3 linked regions of the Homo sapiens genome follow. The protein of the gene in region 2 binds, or shares a complex with, the protein of the main gene of each other region. Each region holds a gene or a part of one and is shown on either strand. Other genes may lie near its edges. A codon is read from its position in the direction of its gene.

Region 1 (7,386 bases), on a different chromosome or scaffold from region 2:
GCTGGGATTACAAGCATGAGCCACGGTGCCCAGCCTTACACTAACATTTTGCTCTACCTATCTCTGAGGATTGTGGTAGCCTTTGGGTTTAGAGGTCACACAAAGGATCTACTCCATTTTTTTGAGACAGAGCAAGACACTGTCGCCCAGGCAGGAGTGCAATGGTGCAATCTTGGCTTGCTGCAATCTCCACCTCCTAGGTTCAAATGATTCTCTGACTGACACCCAACATGCTGGGATTATAGGTGTGTGCCACCTCCACCTACTACGTTCAAGCGATTCACCTCCCTGACTCCCAACTAGCTGGAATTACAGGTGTGTGCCACCACACATGGCTAATTTTTGTATTTCTAGTAGAGACAGGTTTTGCCATGTTACCCAGGCTGGTTTCGAACTTCTGGCCTCAAGTGATCCCTCTGCTTCAGTCTCCCAAAGTCCATTCTTTATTAGAAAACAAATATCAGACATGGCATGGTGGCTCATGCCTGTAATCCCAGCACTTTGAGAGGCTTAGGCAGGCGGATCACTTGAGGCCAGGAGTTCAAGACCAGCCTGGCCAACATGGCAAAACCCCATCTCTACTAAAAACACAAAAATTAGCTGGGGGTGGTGGTGTATGCCTGCAGTCCCAGCTATGCAGGAGGCTGAGGATTGCGTGAACCCAGGAGGCAGAAGTTGCAGTGAGCTAGGATTGCGCAACTGCACACCAGTTTGGGCGAAAAGAGCGAAACTCCATCTCAAAACAGAAGAAAAGGAAACAAATATCCGATGGGCGTAGTGGCTTACACCTGAAATCCTAGCACTTTGGGAGGCTGAGGCAGGAGGATCCCTTGAGCCCAGGAGTTCGAGACCAGCCTGGGCAACATGGTGAAATCCTGTCTCTGTTAAAAAATAATAATAAAATAAAATAAATTTCCTTACCACCTAATGGTGCGTTTTTATGTACTGAGCAATCACCTCCTTACAAATTCACATTTCTATAGAAAAGAGAGTAGAATTATTCTAGACAAGAACACAGTATGACATGATAAAAAGAATAAGGACTTTGGAGTCAGAGGAATTTGTATTCAATTACAACTTACTAGCTGGGGAAGGCCTTCTTCTATAGGAGGGCATACCAATACTTTATTATCACAGAGCTAGTCGATAAATCTGTTATTAAACATAACTTTATTATACGTATATGTAAGTGCTAGGCACATATCAGTTCTCCCTCCTCATCTTTTCAGCGGAGAAAAAAGAACAGAAGCACTAAGATCTCATTTAATCACTTTATGTTAACAACTGATGAAAAATTAAGTGAAGAAATTAGCTCTTCCCTTAAAATTCTTAGCCATTTCTATCCTAGTCCTCTCAAACTCAGTTTTCAGTCTTATCGAAGCTGTAGTTAGGTCAAAAGCTAGGAATTTTTTCCCTAAGTATTATATAAGGGAGAGGACAAGCAATATCAACTGTCATTCAACCACCAATAACACTTTAGTGAGCCAGGCCCTATTGTCCATCTCCAGGACACGGAGATGAGCCAGGCATTAGCTCTGCCATCAAGGACCTCCGACTGGTGGGAAGATAGGTACACCGGTAATGACAGCAGCACTGAACAAAAAGTACAAATAGATTAGTACCACAGAATGCTACAGAAACAGGTGAAGAAGAGACTAAGCTCTCGCTGAGGTTTCATTTGGGTCTTGAAGCACAAATGTTAAGTCCACTGGGTGGAGAACAAAAAGAAAGGGAAGAATGGCATGTATTCTGTGAGAAGAGACAACCAGTGCAAGAGTTTTGAGATATGCAAACACAAGAACACATGGCATATCTGGTCATGTGAGGATGGGTGGAAGAGGGCTGAGCAGTCTTGGGAAATGGGAACAACAGAATGTTGGGAAGAGAGGAAATCACATTGTGCAACAGTGCTAATGTTCTTAATGCCACTGAACTTTATACTTAAAATTGTTAAAATTGTAAATTTTATATTATGTATTGACATATTTTGTATTTGTATTAACATATTTTAATGCTGGATGAATGAATCCATGTAATGTTTAAGGATCAGTATCCTGCTGGATGCTCTAAGCCTTGCCACTCTACAAGTCTAAGGATCTAAGAATGCAACCAATGCACTGGTGTAAATTTGGGGGCATGTCAGGAATGCAGAATCTTGCCTCACCTCCTCTGCTTGACTTATCAAATAGAATCGACATTTGAACAACGTCCCCAGGTAATTTGTATACACATTAATATCTGAGAAATAGGACATCAGGATGATTTAGGATCAACCCTAGCAACATCTACGTGGAGACACATGGAGCATCACTGACTCCCGACAGGGACTCTGCCCACCTGTCACAACTTCATGGTGAGGAAGGTACTGCCCTCCTTCCTAGGTGAGCTGTTCTACCAATAGAGAGCTCTTCCCCTATGAAGTCTGTGACCCCCGCCTGCTTAGACTGCGCCTGAAGGAATTCTATAGACCCTTCTTTCAGCCCCTTAGAACCTTGTGTATATTCCAACTGGTCCCTGGGAGGTTTTTTTTTGGAACGGGGGTGCGGGGAGGCTAGAAGGGGCTCTGCTGCTAACTGGCTGTATCCTCGTACCCCTCCGGAAGGCTCAATGTCCACATCTGGAAAACGAGGATGCTAATGTAACGCGATGGAGCAAAGTTGTGTGAGAGAATAAAATGAAATAACGGATAAGACAGTTTCGTAAATTAAAAAACACTGTTTCTCCTAATAATTTTTTTAAAATCCTGTCAGACTTCACATATTAATGACAACAGCGGCTGCAAACTAACACGCCCACTAACTTGCAATATCAGAGATTATCAACAAGTCAGCACTTAACACGGGCGTATGGAGCCTCTTCTGTTCCGGCAAAGTGCCTGGGATTTGGATAATCTACCCTGGTCCGGATCGGTTCTGGATCTTTCCCGCCAGAGCTTACCTGAACCACTTTCGTGAATTCCTCATAAACCCGCTTCTTAAGGTGCGCCGCCATGCCTACCCGCGGGCCCTCTCAGCTTCCGTACACTAGGAGGGAGGCGGGGGTGGACGGATCCGGAAAACTTGCGTAGGCGCGGGGGGTGGGTGGATGACTTGCCGAGATCCCACAAGGCAGTGGGATTTGGGGAAAGAGCGACCGCTTCCTGTTGCTCGACTGCCTCGCCACTGTACGGACTGATTTGGCGGCCTACGCCGGAAGAACGGAAATAAGAGCTTCGCTTGTGGGAGGCGGGGCCTCTGGCGGGAGGAGCTGAGACTGAAAGGGTGGGCAACCCAATGGGAGCTTTGGGAGGCTGGTTGGTGGCCTCGGAGTGGCTAAGAGACTAGCGCGGCGCGGCGCGAAGGGAGGGAGGGAGGAAGTACAGGTTAAAGGGCAGAGGCGGGGTGCTCCAGAGCTAGAGGCAAAACCCGGAGCTCTGTAAGGGGTTTACGACTCGTGAAAAAACTCAGAGGCTCGGCTGACTTTCCCATCATCCTTTGCTGTACACGATGCTGTTTGTAGGTTTCCTGAGCACTGCCTTTGTTCAAGCTGTGCGCCACCTCTCTTGTTTTGGGGTGCCTTTCCATACTTCCTTATTCCAGTTTTGCAAAAGCTGCCATCCTTTAAGGCATCAATCCCTGCTCTGATAGCTATAGTACAGTAGAAGACTTCTGAGACCAAGGATAAAGCAACAAAGCTACAGACTACAGCTCTGGTTCTTGAGCAAATGGCTCAACTACAAATGCATTTATAATAACTAACCTGACAAAGATGTGACAATGGAGTGAAATAATGCAGGAACATTTTACGGACTGTAAGGTGTAGTGCACATGTTAGTGTCAGTAAATCCAAGGTCAAGTTTTACAACCTACATGAAACTAGCTGTTCATTATTTTGGTCTTTCAAAAGAATGTGGGCCAGGCGCGGTGGCTCATGCCTGTAATCCCAATACTTTGGCAGGCCGAGGCGGATGGATCACTTGAGGTCAGGAGTTCGAGACCAGCCTGGCCAACATGGGGAAACCCCGTCTCTACTAAAAATACAAAAATTAGTCGGGGCATGGTGGCACACGCCTGTAATCCCAGTTTCTTGGGAGGTTGAGGCAGAAGAATCACTTGAACATGGGAAGCGGAGGTTGCAGTGAGCCGAGATCGCGCCACTGCACTCCAGCCTGGGCGACTGAGCGAGACTCCGTTATCAAAAAAAAAAAAAAAGAATTAATGTGGGATAGTTTAAAAAAAAAAAAGCAGGAGGCTGAGGTGGATACAGAGGACCCAAAAATAAACAAAAGATAGTATTTATCCTCAAGGTCCTACAATCTGAGAAGACAGACACCCAAACTGATGGTGACAGTGCAACTGAAATGTGCTGGGTAACGGGAATGAATGTGGTTCAAACAGACCTAATTTCTTCAGAGTGCCTCAGGGAAGGCTTTCCTAAAATTAGAGGAAACTGGGAGTGGTGGCTCACGCCTATAATCCCAGCACTTTGAGAGGCCGAGGCGGGCAGATCACCTAGTTCAGAAGTTTTGAGACCAGCCTGGGCAACATGGCGAAATCTACTTTAAAAATACAAAATTTAGCTGGGCATGATGGTGGCCCACGCCTGAAGTCCCAGCTACTCTGGAGGCTGAGGCGGGAAAATCGCTTGGGCCTGGGATGTGGAGGTTGCAGTGAGCCGAGATCCAGCCACTGCACTCCAGCCTGGGCAACGGAGTGAGACCCTGTCTCCAAAAAAAAAAAAAAAAAAAAAAAAGGCTGGGCGCGGTGGCTCACCCCTATAATCCCAACACTTTGGGAGGCCGAGGCAGGCGGATCACCTGAGGTCGGGAGTTCGAGACCAGCCTGGCCAACATGGTGAAACCCCGTCTCTCCTAAAAATACAAAAACTAGCCGGGCGTCGGGGTGGGTGACTGTAATCCTAGCTACACGGGAGGCTGAAGCAGGAGAATCGTTTGAACCCAGGTGGCAGCGGCTGCAGTGCGCCGAGATCGGGCCTCTGTACTCCAGCCTGAGCAACAGAGCGAGACTCTGTCTCAAGAAAAAAAAAAGAAAAAAAAAGGAAACTATTTCTAATGCAGCTTTAAAAGAATGAGTTTTTCCAGAAACAAAGGCATCCCAGACCGCCGAGATAAGATATACAAATATGTCAAGGGAAATGAAAAACATTTAGCAAACAGTACCTTTAATAAAGCTTAGCTGCTATTATTACCATTATCATATTCTATCAAATCTAAGCTGCCAGCAATTGTAAAATCAATATTTTATTTATTATGTTAAGAAAAGAAATGCTGAAATTAAATACAATGGTTTCTAATTGCTTAGATTTGTTATGTATACTTACAGAAACAGCTCTTTTTAACTTATTTAGACATAGATTTGTATCTTACCTCGCACTGCTGTTTCCATGTCTTCCTGTGCACATAAGAACTTTTTAATGCCAAATTATAGGGTAATCTATTTGGAGATATATTTAATAGTAATTTAAAATAACACATGTAATTCCAAAATTGCACAGAGCTCAGTCGAAGCGATGACACCATGAACTGCTACGACTCAGTATACATATGAGCGATTGGCCAACATCTCCTGATTTCGGAGACATTAAATGTGCATCATAGCATCAATGATACAGAGTATTATCATCGTTATTAAATACATGGCGGCCAGGTGCGGTGGCTCACACCTGTAATCCCAGCACTTTGGAAGACCAAGGTGAGAGGATAGCTTGAGCTCAGGAGTTGGAGACCAGCCTGGGCAACATGGTGAAAACCTATCTCTACCAAAAATACAAAAAATTAGCTGGGCGTGGTGGCATATGCCTGTAGTGCCAGCTACTCGGGAGGCTGAGGTAGGAAGATTGCTTGAGCCCGCTTGGCAGAGATTGCAGTAGCTGAGATCGCACCACTGCACTCCAGCCTGGGTGACAGAATGAGACCCTGTCTCAAAATAATAAATAAATAAATAAATAAATAAATAAATGGCTTTAGGAAGGAGTTTGGTGCATTCCGAAAACCAAAGGAACTTCAGTTCATGTTGAAAGTTAAGTGCATGCAGGGAACAGAAGAAGCAATAAAAATAAAGTTGAGGCCAGGCATGGTGCCTCATGCCTGTAATCCCAGTACTTTGGGAGGTGGTAGGTGGGAGGATCCCTTGAGCTCAGGAGTTCCAGACCAGTCAGTGCAACAGAAAGAGACCCTGTCTCTATATTTTAAAAAAAAAAAATTTATATGGAGTTTATCTCTGTCACCCAGGCTGCAGTGCAGTGGCACAATCGTGGCTCCCTGTAGCCTCGATCTCTGAGGTTCAAGCGATTCTCCTGCCTCAGCCTCATGAGTAGCTGAGATTACAGGCATGCGCCACCACACCCAGCTAATCTTTTTGCATTTTTAGTAGAGACAGGGTCTCACCATGTTGCCGAGGCTGGTCTCAAACTCCTGACCTCAAGTGATCTGCCCACCTCGGCCTCCCAAAGTGCTGGGATTACAGGCATGAGCCACCACGCCTGGCTATATAAATTTTTTTTAAATTATAAATAAATAAATTTGAGAAGTTGGTATAGCCAACTTCTCAATGAGCCAGATTGGTATAGAAACAAGAACACACATTCTTTAATGTTGAATTGAAAAACCGTCTTTATTGTATTGATGCCATTTTCCTTTGACTTTTATTATTACTTATGAAAATACATTAAGGTTCACCTGTGAATGAATCCGTGAGGCTTCAGTCTTCTCTCTCTCTTGCATAACAGCAGCCCAACTTAGTAACTTCTTCTCTACCTGCTGGTTCAGAACAAGAGCCCCAGTGGTCTGGGGACAGTCTCATTACATGTCCAATGTAATGAACAATGACTATGTTCTCTAGGGCAACTGTTCCTCCCTTGGGGAGTAAGTCTTCCAAACCTACTGAGCCCAAGAATTCATAAATGAATTATTAGGTGTAAAAGAGAGAGGAACTGCTCCTATCTCCACCCTTTGATAACCAGACCCATGTTCTAACTGTGGGAGAAGCAGTACTATATTTTAGCTGTTGGTATAAGGCATATGCCACAAACAGCGGCCCAAACTCACAATGTGTTGGCTCTTGACTAGCGCTATAACTGAATCTCCAAAAGGTTATTATTCTGCTTTATTATAGCACCTACATCTGAATGATGGGGTTCCTGGCAAGACCAAGAAGTTTCTTCACTACAATTTTCTCAGCATAAAATAAGCTCCTTAATCAGAAGCAATGTGTGGAGTACTATGATAATGAATGAGGCATCCATAGATGATGGAGCTGGCAGAAATATTGCAGGCAGGGAAGTCAAATCTGAATTTGGAATATGAATCTATTCCTGTGAGGACAAATCACTGCTCCTTCCATGATGGAAAGGATCCAGTGTGTAGTTGAATGATTGCAAAAAAAGCCC
Region 2 (7,812 bases):
ATCTTTTCTCAAGGGTATCCATAGACCTTGATAAACCTTCAGAAATTATTTACCAATTATTTACACAGAATCTACATGGGGGAGGACAGACACACGCCAATAATTACAAGTGCTACAAATAGGAAGTATGCCATCAAATATATAACAGGGGTACTTAATTCAACGAGGCCCTGAAGAAGTGTTATTTAGACAGAGATCTGAAATATATGAAGAAATTAGCCAGGCAAAAAAGAGTGAGGCAGGCAATGGAACATATTCAACCAAGTTAAGTGTAGGAGGTTATCCTAAGGGCAAAGGAAGATACTGAGAGGGTTTCATGGAACTCTGCAATTAAAACAACTTCCGGATGCAGAGGAAAGAATGAATTTGAGAGGGTTAAGACTGAATGCAGAGAGACCAGATAAGGGGTCTTGTTGAATTCCGATTACAAAGACAGTATTCTAGTTGGACTGGAGAGAAATAGAACCTATTTAAGAAAGCTGCATTTAGGAAGCAGAATCAATAAGAGGTGGTCATAGATTGTGTGTGGGAAGGGTACTCTGGAAAGTGAATCTCAAAAATGAGAAAATGCTAAACAAAATGTGTTTTTGTTTCATAATTATAAATTTAAAACACAGCCTATTACATATTTCTGAAGCAGTACACAAAATTAAAACTTTTAGGCCATGGGAGGACTTATTCCAACCATTTGGGAGGCATGACACACCCATCTAACTTACTGAGCAACAATGCTTTTGGTATGTTGATGGGAATTCTCAATTACATTTATCTATCAACTACCAAATAAATTTTAGTATGTAATACATAGTTGCAAAGTAAAGAGGGAGTATGAGTATCAATAGAATACTTCCTTTTCCTCTGAGACATCTTTGGTTCTTAATGGAAAAAATAATTTTCCACTTTTTTACAATCCCCGGTTTCATATTTCTAAATAAATTAAGCAGGAGGATTTTATGAGCAAACTAAAATATATGTAAAGTAAACCCTGGCTTTTTGATACCCTCACTAATGAGTTGTTATGGGAAAAACTATTTCACACTTCCCTGCCTTCTTAAACTGAACACATTAAATATAATTTGCTCTTTATTGAGAACACAGGGTCCATGCTTTAGCCAATAAGGTACCAAGCTCTTATGCTCCTATAAGCTGACCTCTTTCATGGAAGGCCCTGGCTTACTTATCCTTATCAGTTCAAGAGTCACGTTTCCAGGAAGCTGTCCCCTGACCTCCCCAATCCTCTGTTCTCTGAATTCCCAAAACCCTGAACACGCCTCTATTTCACCATGAACACAGTGAATTATAATTTCGGACCAGGCATGGTGGCTCATGCCTGTAATTCCAGCACTTTGGAAGGTTGAGGTGGGCAGATACCTTGAACCCAGGAGTTTGAGACCAGCCTGGGCAACATGGTTAAACCCCATTTCTACAAAAAAAATAAGCAGGGTGCAGTGGTGCGCGCCTGTATTCCCAGCTATATGGGGAGACTGACGCGGCGAGAGGATCGCTTGAGTCCGAAAGGTGGAGGTAGCAGCGAGCTGAGAACGCGCCACTGCACTTCAGTCTGGGCCCCACAAAGCCAGACCCTGTCTCTAAATAAATAAATAATAACTTTGGTTTACTTTTCTATCTTCTTCTTAGGTTGCATGCTTCTGTAGGGCAACGGCTATGACTTTTAATTCTGCATTATTAAATGTGTAACACACTGACCCAGGGGTAAGTTGCTATTCTCAAGGTTTAGTGACCCGCATCCTTCCCCTTATATAAACAGATTTATACGGGGACAATTTCGGAATTGAATCCACTTTTAATACTTTCTCTGACTTCGCAGAAAACAGCTGGCTTTGCAGAATATATGCCTGTAGCACAATGATTATCAAGATGAGGGTAGGTGTGTTGTGTGGTTTGGCAAAGCATGTTCAGATAATTATATAAATGGTAAAAAATAAACTTTTTTTTTTTTTGAGACAGAGTCTCGCGCTGTTGCAAGGCTGGAGTGCAGTGGCGCGATCTTGGCTTACTGCAACCTCTGCCTCCCGGGTTCAAGCGATTCTCCTGCCTCAAGTAAAGCTTGACAATAACTTGGCTGCACAAATATGGGTTTTAAAAGGTTGAGAAACAGTGTTTCACACCTGCCTTTCTACACTATGTTATTAACTAATTGAATCGAGTTGGAATAAACTAGTTAGACTTGTGTGCACAATGAGTCAAATGGCTCAAATCAAAGGTCTGAGGAGCCTCCATGAACCAGGTGCTTGAGCTGTGTGATGTTAAGACTTCAGGTATACCGAGCACGCTTCATTCAGCCTTGGCTCATGAAGTCCCTACAGTCTTAGAATGGAATACCATATAACACTTCTCTGCCCATCTAAATCCCATGCAGGGTTTAAGACTCAACTTCTCCACACTCTGACCTCGTCCTGAATTCCAAGGGCAGTGAGGAGTCTATATAACAGGATATTTAATAAGTGATTACGTTCTGCTGGATGTTTTTTACTGTCTGCTTAAATCTAGCCAGTCTCAACAACAGTAGGGAGACAGGATACTCAAGCGCCAATCGAATGGAAACGGATTGTTAACAGCCTATTATAACCCTCACGTGGGAACCAGGACGTCCAAACCTGGTTAACAGAGCCCACAGAGTTCATGGGCGAAGGACTGTGACAGTCAACCTCTTGTCTGAACAAAAAGACCCACTAACGAGTGAAAAAAGACCTCCTGGGAGGGATGGGGTGGGGGAGAGGGAATTCAAACCTTCTCAACAACAAAAAGCAGCTTTCCTTAGCCCACTCCACTTTCCAGCTCAATAATTGCTACCCCTCCCGTGCGACGATTCCCTGCCCAACGTAGGAAAAAAAGAGGTCCAAAAGGTTATAGCATCACCTTTGCCCTCTGACCTAGGAGCGAAGACTCACCAGTTTCATAATGGACTTTTGGTGGTTCAATAGCAGTCACTGAACTCCTCAAACCCAGGAAGCGTCTTCCGGTGCAATCTCCGCCACCTGCCAGCCGAGAGCATCGCGGGACTTGCAGTCTTTCATCCTCACGTCCCTTCCAGGGGAATAATGGGAAATGTAGTCTCCCCTCCAGGCATCATGGGAACTGTGGTCGCCTTTCCTTTTCCTCCCTTTCCTCTCCGAACGCCTCCTTCCGTCAGCTCAAATTCATCCCAGCCGCCAATGCATCCTCCCTCTCCACCCCAGCATGATATCATGTCTTCCTTACGGGCCTGGGGCCCATGGTGTTCTGGGATGTGTAGTCCCGACGGCTCCGACTCCCCTTTCCCTCCTCCCAAAGGGAAGGCGGATGGGCACGGGGCTTGCCGGAAGTTGTAGTTCCCTTGGCCCTCTAGGCGCCGGGCTCCGCAATTTTTCTCAGGGGAGGCAGGAACTACAACTCCCAGGGACGCCCGGCGGCAGCAGGTGGGAGAGGGGCTGTTGATATCAATATGGCGGTTGTCAGCCAGACAAAGACAGTCAGTCTGATGTGATTGAGACAAGGGAGGTTTTTCAGGGGGAGACTGGGAGATAGGGGCCTCCCCTCCCCCTTCTCCTCTTCCTGCGCCGGCCTCAACCCCTCCCCAGTCCCCTCCCGACGGGCGCCCCACGCGGAAGACACCCCTCCCCCTCCCGCCTTCCCTCCTCCCTATCTCAGCCCTTCGTACTGGGACGTTGGGGAGGGGGCTGTGCCGGGCGGAGAGAACTCAGCGAGGATTCTGAGGTGAGTCGAGCGGTTTTGAAGCCGGACTACCTCAAGTCTCTTTCCTCACTTCTTTCTCTTCACTTAAAACAATTTTTTTGGAGGGGTTTTGGGGAGGAAGTGAGCGGACGCTGGGGATGGGTCTCGTAAGCGGCCGGATTGAGAGGAGGGAGGAAGCAGGGGGCTTCCGAGTGGGTGACCCAGACGCGGGCTGTGGGGTGGGGCAGTTCGTGGGGTCCGGTCCTGGAAAGGCGTCGACTGCCCCCCAACTCTTCTGGTTTCCTCTACGATGAGCGGAAGGTTTGAATCCTGGAGGTGGGGTCTCCGGTGTGGAGTTCTGGAAACTGTGAGGTGATTTGCAGGTGTGTTGGTTTGTTTGGGGTGTGTAAGTGTGTTTAAACTGTGTGACGTGTACTTGTGTGCTCTGCTCGTCTTGGAGCGGTGTCTGTAGATGGGAAGTTAGACAGCGCGAGTCCTCGCTCGCTCTGGGCCTGGGCTGAGGGGCGGGCGTGAGGTCCTGGTGCTGGGCGTTTGGGCTGGCGACGTGGTGCGAGGCGGCCGGGCTCAACAACTCGCTTGTGTCCCGTCGCCCGCTCACACTCTGCCACTCGCCTCCGCCCCCTCCCCTGGACGAATCTCCACCCCAAACTCCAGCCACGAGAACTGTAGAGATGGTGTGATGTGGAGATGGATTTTTTGCATCCTCAAGTCGGTAGATAGGTGGGAAAGGAAAAGTGTTTCTTAATATTTTATTCCGGAACCGTGTTTTGGTTACACTATTGGGGCTACTTTGAAAGGCGTCCTCCACCCACCTTCACCCCGAAACAGTAGGTAGAGGTATCTTGTCTTCGTGTGAATTAGATGAATAATTGCTGAAGATTCGGGGGGCCTGGGGTGGGGGTCGGGAGTGCTGGATTGTGTACGCGTCTGTGTGTGTCTACTAAGGAGACGGAATGTCTGTTATGTATCTGGAGATAGGGCGACTTATTTTCGTAGCAGGAGGAACTGTTGGAAATTATTTGCGGGAGAGGGGGTGCGCCGAAAGGCGCTGCTTGTATTTTTCTTCTACTCCACCCTGTTCTGTCTTGCATTTGCCTGAAAGCTGGTGGAATGGAACAGTGAAGAAGCATTGGGTGAGTAAAGGGAAGAATGCAGTTGGCATTAAAGATAACACTATGTAAAGTTGAATGGTATAAAGTGATTACTGTTTTTATTTACGCTGAAGCTTAAAAAAAATCACCCATGTATCATATAAGGTAGAGTGATGTGACTAGCTCATTTCTCTGGTATCCTGCAGGTACAGAAACCTCTGGCTTCCCTCTTCCTTCCTTCCTATCCTCCCTCCTTCCTTCCTTCCTTAAGTCCTTCCTTTCTTTCTTGGCTTCGTACAACATTTCTCTTTCTGTTGGACATAATACCGCCTGTGTCTTTTTATTTAGTTTGTGCTAATATGGTTGTGCTTTTTGTGGTTTTACCATAAAATGCATCGTTAAATGCATTTATTATTTTGCATTTATGCTGCAGGTAATTATCACATCAGGATTGCAGTGCTTTGCATTAAACTTATTTTAAAATTGTGCAATTAAGTTGCTTGATCTAGCTGAATTATGTTTCTAAGTCAAAGTTGGGAAATTTGAATTCTAAATTTTTTTTCAAATTTCAATTAGAGTTAAAAAGGAAAGGATTGCAACATCTCTTATTTCTCACAGTTTTTAATATTTAATAACACACTAGGAGAATTTAAGGTCATATTTTGTACTTCCTTATTAAGTTCTTCAATAATCCTTATGTGACAATTTTTTTAGTGTAACGGATTTTTAAAGTAAAGAAATTGGCATAATTTCTATTTCGACTGTTGAGAATTGAATATATTCCCCAAACTTATCAATTCTTGAATCTGCCACCTATCATCAGTAAGGGACCTTTAGATTCTATGATAACTGAAAACCACATTGATAGAGTGTGTAATTTTATGATATGTCCTCTAACCATTGATTTAAAATTTTTGCTGTTGGTCATTCACACAGATAAGGGGGACTGAAAGAGTGAGGTAGCATGTATATTTCAATTGACCTGAATAGAAAAAAAAATGTGATTTCTAAATCTCAGATGTAGAATATACAATATGTTGATTCAAAACTAAGCCATTAGTTTGTGATAGACCAGGATTTTCAGAATCATTTGTTTTAAGCTTGTATCTTAACTTGAAACACTACTTTGCAAAAACCAGAGAAAAATCCTACGTAACTACTTAACGGAGTGTTTTGTTTTATTTTTCTGAAGCATATTATAATAGTCATGGAGTTTTTTAAAAAATGTTTAATAATTATTTTAGAAGTAAAAAACCAACATGTTTGTTAATATTTTAAATTGGAAAAACACGAGTGTTTTCTCTTCCATCTACCCTTACCTCAAAATTTCTTTTTGTTTTGTCTATAGAAGTGCAAAGTTATTTACTTGAAAAAGCATTCATTAAACTTTTTCTGGCTACTAGTGGGATCAAAATCATTACATGTAAACCAAATATATTCCCAGCATTTGTTGGGGGTGATTCTGTTGCATTTTAAGTACTGGGCATTAAAATGATGTAAAGCCTTTACTGCAGGTTAAAGCATAAAACATTCTCAGCATGTGAGAGTCATATGGTTTACAAATAAAGTAGAAAACCAGGGCATGGGTGCTTGTCCAGCTTACAATTTCATCCCGTAACTGTGAAAGACACATTTATTTTAATGTGATTGCTTCTAAAGATGTTGCCTGTATTATGGGAAGTTGAAAATCTAAGCTGCTTTTAACTAATCTGTTGCTAGTTTAGTTTACTGCATTTAGTGAACACTATGTATGGTCACAAATACGCATCAAGGAAAGGAGCCTTTAGCTGGAAGTTGAATGCCTTTAGTGAGGCTTCGTTTTCACTGCTGTACAAACAGATTTCAGTCTTCTAGCCCAAATCCTCAGTTAAAACATCGCTAATAGAAACTTAATAGCTCAGTGTTCCTAAGTTACAAAATATGTGGCAACAAATCTGTCATTGTTACATCATTTAAAAAATAGCAACCAGCTTATGGCAATTTTTGTGGCAAGTGTTGATTGGAATTCTATTGCTTGTTTCATAGATATTGAATACATTGGGAATATTTAGGCTTAATTTGTGTATTTTGAGTCTCCTGTACACTGTATTCAGCACATCCCACATTTAGGGCTCCCGTGCAATTTAGTTCTGTTCATTTCATTGTAGCTCTTGCTTCTCTTATTTTTGTATACAGCTCTTTAAACCTGAATTATTTCTCTTGGGAATCAGGTATTTATGTAGAATGTTGTCATAAGTGAAAGTTGGCATACCACTCAACTTTTTAAATACATGAACATTTATAGATAAACCGAATAGTGCTCATTGAAAATGTGTTGGTTTTGTTTGTTTTGTGAACCAGCTTTATTTAGTTCTTTGGCTTCTGGAATTAATTTTGTAGCTCACTTTGCTATTCTTTGGCTAGATTTTTCTGTTAACAGTTGGCTTTTACTTCCCACTGTAGTAGAACTGTAATTTATTAAAGCATTGTTGTGAGTGAAAAGCATGGCTTGTCTAGAGTGCCATATATGTACACCCACAATACACTCATACATAAAATACTTTTATGTTTATTTATTTATTTATGAAATTGGTGTATATCTATCAGACATGCCTCCCATAAGAAAGAATCTGAGCCACAAATAGCAGAAGACCTTGAACTTTGACTGAAGCTAGAAACCAAAGAGTAACCAGCACATGTTGTCCACATTATAGAAGCTGAGGAGATTTTCATTATCATTCCAAACCATTATTTTCACAGATTTTGTTAAAATACAGTTCTCTCAAAATGGAAGCTATTGATATTGAAAGTTTTCTCAAAATATTAGTAAGTAAGACGTAGCATGGATTCCTAGGTGCAGCTATTCCCCCACATTGCCCTTACTGGATTTAGGGCCCATCATAGGCGCAGAGTAAAGATTTTTCCATGGGATTATTTGATGTAAACTTTTAGTTGCAGTGTATTCAAACATAATCCAGTGCTTTAGATAATTTGTTTTCCTTGACCTTAGATGAAACAAGTTGGAAATTTACTATAACATTGTTTT
Region 3 (7,428 bases), on a different chromosome or scaffold from region 2:
TCCTCCCATCTCGGCTTCCCAGAGTGCAGGGACTACCGGGGGACTACCGGCCTGAGCCACGGCTCCCGGCCATATGGGCCTGTTTCATTTTCTGCACAGCACTTCTCACTTTCTGACACGATCTTAATTACCTGTTTATTACCTTGTCCCTCCGCCCCCCCCCCCCCCCCCACTGGAATGCAGCTTATTCCCGTGTCTCTAACACACAGTAGATATTTACCGGGCAAAGTAACTAACCTAAGGCTCATGCACCCTCGCCCTGGGGAGTACATCGGGCCCCACCCTCCTCCAGGAAGCCTCCTCTGACCAAGCTGGGTTCCCAGACCCTGGGGCTGCCTCCCTCCCACCCCGAAGGCTTGGGGCCACACGGGATCCGTGGATCCCGCCTTAGATCGGGGGTGCCCGGAGGCACTTACACCGTGAGCTCCGTCACCTGCGGGCCGCAGACTCGCAGGCGCCCAGAGGCGAGGGCGCGGCGTCCCGGAGAGCTTCCTGGAAGCGGCGGCCTCTGCGAAAGCGGGCGCGGGCGAGGCTGCAGGCGGCGCGGGGCCTGCAGCGCGCTCTTGTGCGGTAACAATAATGGCAGCTGTCACCCGGCCGTGCGCCCCGTCCTCACGCCCCGGGCCGGCCCCTGCGCGGGGCCCCGAGGCTGCGGGCGACGGAGACGAGCCGAGGCCTCGCGGACGCCCGCCCGGCGTCGCCCCCTCGCCCGTTCTTACCGTGTCCAAGGCCGGCTCCCCGGTGCCCAGGAACATGGTGGCGGCGCTGCCCGGCCGCCCCTCAGGGTTGCTGGCTCGGGCGTCCGGGTCTGGGAATCCGCGGGCAGCCCTGGCCGCCCGCAGCCTCGGGGCCTTCCCTGGCGCCGGCCCGCGACCCCGCTGCCATGGCAACCAGGCCGCCGACCTACCCAGCCGGGTAAGCGACCTGCGTTCCCCCTGGGGCGACCATGCGCGTGCGCAGAGTCCGCGGGCGCCGGCCGGCCGACCAGGAGCGCTCCCGGAGTTCCCGGGGCGGAGCGCGGGGGCTGAGAGGGGGAAAAAAACCGGCCCGGCGCAGTGGCTCGCGTCTGTAATCCCAACACTATGGGAGCCTAAGGCAGGAGATTCAATTGAGCCCAGGAGTTTGATACCAGCCTGGGCAATGTAGCGAGACCCCGTCTCTCGAAAAATAAAATAAAAATAAAAGCCAGGCATGCTGGTGCACGCCTATAGTCCCAGCTCCTCGGGAGGCTGAGGTGGGAGGATCGCTTGGAGCCCAGGAGGTCGAGGCTGCAGTGAGCTATGATTGCACCACTACAGTCCAGCCTGGGCGACAGAGCAAGACCCTGTCTCAATCAAACAAACACACATAATAAACTTTCGTTTGCTTTCAGGGTCTCACCCAGGGCGCTTTGCTCTACGTGCTCCCTGTGCATAAGTACCTCTTGCCACTCTCCCACCCTTGGGCTTCGCAAACTTTTTGCCCTTCTCTTATCTAATTATAGAGCCAGCGCCTATCTACGACCTTTTATCTGTGATTCTGAATTCCACAAACTTCCGAAAGCCCTTCACAACTCATTTGAAGGCCAGACCAGTCCTAACCTCAACTCTCCGGGAGGAAAACTCTGAGCTGAGGCTATTTATAGTGCTTATTTATCCCACGGGGTGTACATGAGTGAGTTTCACTGAATAACTTCTTTTTTTTTTTTTTTTGACGGAGTCTTGCTCTGTGGCCCAGGCTGGAGTGCAGTGGTGCGATCTCCGCTCACTGCAACCTTTGCCTCCTGGGTTCAAGCGATTCTCCTGCCTCAGCTACCCGAGTAGCTGGGACTACAGGTGCGTGCCACCACGCCCAGCTAATTTTTGTATTTTTAGTAGAGACGGGTTTCACCACCTTGACAAGGATGGTCTCGCTCTCTTGATCTCGTGATCCGCCCGCCTCCACCTCCCAAAGTGCTGGGATTACAGGCGTGAGCCACTGCACCCGGCCCTGAATAACTATTAATACGTTTAATTATGGGGTGTGTGTCACACTCTGCTGTAATCTCATATTTAATGTACATGTGCCATGTCACATTTCTAAAATCTGAACAGTTCTGAATTCTGAAAAAACATTTGTCCCCAAAAGTTTGAGATAAGAAATTGTGGACCTGGGCCAGGCACGATGGTGGCTCACGCCTGTAATCCCAGCACTTTGGGAGTCTAGGGTGGGTGGATCACTTGAGGTCAGGAGTTTGAGACCAGCCTGACCAATATGGTGAAACTCTGTCTCTACTAAAAATACAAAAATTAGCCAGGGGTCGTGGGTGCCTGTAGTCTCAGCTACTCAGGAGGCTGAGACAGGAGAATTGCTTGAACCTGGGAGGTGGAGGTTGCAGTGAGCTGAGATCACACCACTGCACTCCAGCCTGGACATCAGAGCGAGACTCCACCTCAAAAAAAAAAAAAATTGTGGACCTGTGCAATACAATATTCAAATCTGGAGCCAGACTGCTTGGGTTCAAATCCAAACTGTGCCAATCCAGTAGCTGTAAGGCCTTATGAGTTAGCCTCTCTGTGCCTCATTTTCCTCATCTGATGGGCTGGTAGTGGTACTCTCCTACCGTTGCTGTAGAATCATACAAGTTTACAGTAAGTGAAGCACTTAGCACAGTGCTGTTGTTGAGTTTTCTTTACTCCACAATTACCTAACTGGGTGAATGTTAGTATCTCATTTCACAATGAGGAACCAAATTTCAGGGAAGATAACTGTGCATTTCAAACTTTTTCACACATGTAGTTCTAAGGATGTACGTGTGTGTGTGTGTGCAGGGGGCATGCAAGCGTCAGGGAAGTTGCTTTTCCAAGGTTACCCAGCACGGCTGGGCGCGTTGGCTCACGCTGGTAGTCCCAGCACTTTGGGAGGCCTAGGTGGGCGGATCACCTAAAGTCAGGAGTTCGAGACCAGCCTGGCCAACATGGTGAAACCCCGTCTCTACTAAAAATACAAAATTAGCTGGGCGTGGTGGCCCGCACCTGTAATCCCAGCTACTCGGGAGGCTGAGGCAGGAGAATCGCTTGAACCCAGGAGGTGGAGGTTGCAGTGAGTCAAGATTGAGCCATTGCACTCCAGTCTGGGCAAAAAGAGTGACACTCCGTCTCCATAAATAAATAAATAAAATAAAGGTGACCCAGCAAAGTCAGTGCTTTTAAATTTTTAAATTTTAATATCCATAGGAATTCTGCTTTGTTTCCTAAATCTGGTGTTGGCTCCCAACAATCTTGCTATAAAACAATGCTTTGGGAACATGAGCCTTGTCTATCCACTGGCTTTGAGACTCTCGAACACACAGTTAGTGTTTTGAACTCAATTTTTTGGACCTAGTTTTTCTGCCTGTTTGCTTTCTTAAAACACAGGGTCTTGCTCTGTTGCCCAGGCTGGAGTGCCGGGGCAGGATCATAGCTCACTGCAGCCTTGAACTTCTGGGCTCAAGCGATCCTCCCGCCTCAGCCTCTGGAGTAGCTGGGACCACAGGCGCATGCTACCAGGTCTGGCTGATTTTCTTTTTTTTTTTTTGAGACGGAGTCTCGCCCTGTAGCCCAGGCTGGAGTGCAGTGGCACCATCTTGGCTCACTGCAACTTCCGCCTCCCAGGTTCAAGAGATTCTCCTGCCTCAGTCTCCCGAGTACTTGGGATTACAGGCGCGCGCCTCCACGTCCGGCTAATTTTGATATCTTAGAGATACAAAAATTAGAGACGAGACGGGATTTCGCCATGTTGGCCAGGCTGGTCTCGAACTCCTGACCTCGTGATCCGCCCGCCTGGGCCTCCCAGAGCGCTGGGATTACAGGCGTGAGCCACCACGCCTGGCCTTTTTTTTTTTTTTTTTTTTTTTTTTTAAATTTTAAGAGATGGGGTCTCGCTTTGTTGCCTAGGCTGGTCTCAACTCCTGGCTTCAAGCAATCCTCCCAACTGCGCCTCCTAAAGGGCTGGAATTACAGGCATGAGCCACAGCGCGGCCGCGGAGGACTTAATTTGAGAACCTGAAGCTAAATGACCAAGGGCTTTGGTGCACGGATCAGGACGCTTCTCTCCGGCACATAGTTTTCTCGCTCCCGCCGGTGCAGACACTGGGCGCCCTGCAGGCGAAGCCCCGCCCCTCCGGACACAACCCCGCGCCTTCCTCAGAGATCCCCGCCCTCGAGACGCCCCGCCCACCCACCGGATGCTCGGCATGAACCACTAGGCGCCTGGCGGGGGTGATCTGTCGGAGCGACCGGCTTGGCGCCTGCCTGTCCCCAGCCCCTCTCAGCTTGAACTCCTTCCTTCAAGTCTGGGCCCTCGAGGCTTCCAGAGCGGCCTCCAGGGGTGCAGTCTCAGTTCCCCACGCCAGCCGTCTCCGTCCTCCGCCTCCTCCGGGCCTGGCAGGTGGCACTGTCCGGAGGCGGAGCCTTGGGCGAGGGGTGGTTGCGGCGGAGGACGCAACCGAGCGGTGAGGCGCGTGGGCCTTCGGGGGTCGAGGTCGTGGTAGTGGGGCGCGGGGAGGCCAAGACCCGGCCGAGGGGGGCGGGCGGGCCAGGGAGCAGCCCAGCCCGGGGCGTGCGCGACCTGGGCTCGCTTCCCAGCCCGACTGTGGCCGCCTGCTCTGGCGCCCCTTCTGGACTCTCGGGCCTGGCGCTCGCGGCCAAAACTGACTTCAAAGTGTGGGGAGGGTTCCTCTTCCCGGGACGCAGCCTTCCCGGGCATTGGCAGACGGTGCCCCGGTTAGACAGAGCCGCTGACCACCCCGCCCACCCCCGAGGCTGGACGCACGGATGCACACCTGGTCCTGGGAGAGACAGGCGCCCCTTCCTTTCCGCACCCCGCCGCCCCCCTCTCCCCCCCGCCGGCTTCAGATGCAGCCACCACTAATCCTGGGAGGGACAGACACACGGACAGGTGCCCCTTCCCCTCCTCACCCTCCTACTGGCTGCAGAACAGCAAATGCAGCCACCACTGACCCTGAGAGGGACAGACACACGGACAGGCGCCCCTTCCCCTCCGCACCCCCCTGCTGGCTTCAGGACGTCAAATGCAGCCACCACTTGACGCTGGGAGGGACAGAAACTTTCCAGCCCAGGCTGGCCCTGGGGCATGGGTAGACATCCCCTTGCACACATGGCTGACCCCGGAACTCAAAGATGCCCCTGACTCTGGCCCACCTGCAGCCTGGGCCAGCACCACGCTGTTGCCCCGACTGCACCAAAGACCAAGGGTGACAGACTTTGAGTTCCGGAGGCCTTGTGGTTTCAGCTAGACCCTCATCTGCCCCTTTCAGCCCCGCCACCAGCGCTCAGGGCCCCACCTAGACCAAAGCTTTGCATCCATCCCTGCAGTACAGACCTCTGGTCTGGGGATCATGGTTCTCCTGGTCTGAGATGAAAGTTCTGGGGCCCCTTCCCAGGCCTGAGCAGGCATGGTGGGCTGCTGTGACTAGAGCGAGCTGGGTCTGGAGTGGGCATTGAGGTTTGGCTCTCACATTGCCTTTGCAGGGCCTGCGGCCTCACCATGGACCCAGAATGCGCCCAGCTGCTCCCGGCTCTCTGTGCTGTTCTGGTAGATCCCAGGCAGCCGGTGGCAGATGACACCTGTTTGGAGAAGCTCCTGGACTGGTTTAAAACGGTCACTGAAGGAGGTAAGGAGGTGGTGCTGCTGTTTACTGCCTATCCAGAGACCAGACGCAGAGGCTGGGACAGGGAGCAGGGGCCAGATGGGGACTCCCCTGTCCTGGAGGAAGGGCAGAAACTGCCAATCAGATGTCTTTCCTTCACTTCCTAAGGATTATCTGTGGCAGACTGAGGGCAAGTTAAGATGAAGCCCGAGAGAATGATCTGGAGAGTTAGAGCCTGAAATTCAGCCAGTTGAGCCACGATCAGGGCACCCCAAGGTTCAGTTCTACAGAAGGCGTGAACAAACTTGTTTTATTGTTGTTCTCGTTGTATTTAGTGTGTTTAAGACATCAGATTTGTTTTCTTTCTGATTATGAAAGTAGGGGCCGGATGCAGTGGCTCATACCTGTAATCCCAGCACTTTGGGAGGCTGAGGCGAGCGGATTGCTTAAGTCCAGGAGTTCAAGACCAGCCTGGTCCAACATAGCGAGACGTCATCTCTAAAAAAAAAAAAAACAAAAATTAGCTGTGCCTGGTGGCGCACCTGTAGTCCCAGCTACTCTGGAGGCTGAGATGGGAGGATCCTTTGAGTCCGGGAGGTAGAGGTTGCAGTGAGCTATGATTGTGCCACTGCACCCTGACCTGGGTGATAGAGTGAGACCCTGTCTCAAAAAAAAAAAACAAAGTAATACATGTTCTTTAAAACATGAACAAAAGAGTAAAGAGGAAAATTAAACCATCAACGTTTTAATTTACTCCCAGCCTTTTCATAACACATAAAGCTGTATTTTTCTGGGGAAAAAAAAATGAGGTCATACTGTAAACACAATTTTGGTGTCTTGCTTTCTCTCTTGCTATCATAGTGAGTGTTTTCTCCACATAATATGTTAATGTTATTGACTACATGTTATTTGCTGTAGGAATAGACCATAATTAATTGAATCACTCCACTGTCAGATGTTTATATTTCTCATTTTTCATCATTTTAAGTAGTGTCATAGGTCAGGCGCGGTGACTCATGCTTGTAATCCCATCACTTTGGGAGGCCAAGGCGGGTAGGTCACTTGAAGTCAGGAGTTCGAAACCAGCCTGGCCAACATGGTGAGACCTCGTCTCTACTAAAAATAAAAAAATTAGCCGGGCATGGTGGCATGCGCCGTAATCCCAGCTACTTGGGAGACTGAGGGGGAGGATCGCTTGAACCCAGGAAGCGGAGGTTGCAGTGAGCCCAGATCGTGCCACTGCACTCCAGCGACAGAATGGACTCTGTCTCAAAAAAATAGTGTCAGTCGAGCGCGGTGGCTCAAGCCTGTAATCCCAGCACTTTGGGAGACCGAGGCAGGCAGATCACGAGGTCTGGAGATCAAGACCCTCCTGGCTAACATGGTGAAACCCCGTCTCTACTAAAAATACAAAAAAAAAAAAAATAGCCAGACGTGGTGGTGGGCGCCTGTAGTCCCAGTTACTTGGGAGGCTGGGCAGGAGAATGGCGTGAACACAGGAGGCAGAGCTTGCAGTGAGCCGAGATCACGCCACTGCACTGCAGCCTGGGCGACAGAGCGAGATTCCGTCTCAAAAAAAAAAAAATAGTGTCATAATGGCTTTCCTTTTACATAAATATTCTCGCATGTAAATGTTTATTCTCATGGTTGATAATTGCATTGGGATAGACTGCATGTTGTTAATTTCTGCTATTCTTTACTTCCTTTTTTTGGTTTACCGTGTTCTTTTATTCTTTTTATTTTTAAATTATATTGTATTTTTTTTTTTAAGGATGGGGTCTCACCGTATTGCCCAAGCTGTTTTCGATCTCCTGGGCTCA

What was found. Proteins that work in one complex are often made in the same cells at the same time.
Region 1: the proteins of INTS9 (region 2) and INTS4 are in contact, whole or in part, in a cryo-EM structure (PDB 8RC4), measured with the Homo sapiens proteins. Residues at the interface, in NP_060720.2 of Homo sapiens: Lys2 (codon at 2,918), Tyr4, Lys18, Ser21, Thr22, Leu43, Val44, Gln45, Glu87, Glu89, Leu90, Asp92, Asp97, Thr122, Glu145, Arg146, Val147, Pro148, Lys159, Glu174, Ser176, Thr177, Ser192, Gln195, Phe206, Gly207, Ile379, His380, Ser384, Asn385; in NP_291025.3 of Homo sapiens: Leu53, Gln54, Leu57, Gln58, Arg61, Lys62, Pro86, Ser87, Leu90, Lys91, Ser94, Gln125, Gln129, Asp132, His164, Gln207, Asp208, Pro209, Arg210, Arg212, Asp244, Tyr245, Glu246, Gln247, Trp296, Phe837, Gly840, Leu841, Val842, Val843.
Region 3: the proteins of INTS9 (region 2) and BRAT1 are in contact, whole or in part, in a cryo-EM structure (PDB 8UIB), measured with the Homo sapiens proteins. Residues at the interface, in NP_060720.2 of Homo sapiens: Gly276, Met277, Gly279, Glu280, Cys282, Ser283, Asn284, Ala286, Leu287, Arg290, Asn291, Tyr315, Asp317, Ser318, Ala319, Gly320, Ser483, His484; in NP_689956.2 of Homo sapiens: Ala406, Pro407, Cys416, Pro460, Gln506, Lys507, Arg508, Cys510, His511, Pro512, Arg517, Glu545, Leu549, Gln552, Asp556, Pro557.

Annotation. Positions count from the first base shown.
Region 1 is NC_000011.10:77,991,653-77,999,038, forward strand, and holds the start of INTS4 (integrator complex subunit 4), read right to left. Parts: upstream 3,017-7,386; 5' UTR 2,992-3,016; coding exon 2,938-2,991; intron 1-2,937. UniProt on the Homo sapiens protein: Component of the integrator complex, a multiprotein complex that terminates RNA polymerase II (Pol II) transcription in the promoter-proximal region of genes.
Region 2 is NC_000008.11:28,886,962-28,894,773, forward strand, and holds the start of INTS9 (integrator complex subunit 9), read right to left. Parts: upstream 3,009-7,812; 5' UTR 2,922-3,008; coding exon 2,913-2,921; exon of another isoform or gene 2,881-2,912; intron 1-2,880. UniProt on the Homo sapiens protein: Component of the integrator complex, a multiprotein complex that terminates RNA polymerase II (Pol II) transcription in the promoter-proximal region of genes.
Region 3 is NC_000007.14:2,552,509-2,559,936, reverse strand, and holds the start of BRAT1 (integrator complex assembly factor BRAT1), read left to right. Parts: upstream 1-4,412; 5' UTR 4,413-4,450; exon of another isoform or gene 4,451-4,896; intron 4,897-5,489; 5' UTR 5,490-5,505; coding exon 5,506-5,632; intron 5,633-7,428. UniProt on the Homo sapiens protein: Component of a multiprotein complex required for the assembly of the RNA endonuclease module of the integrator complex.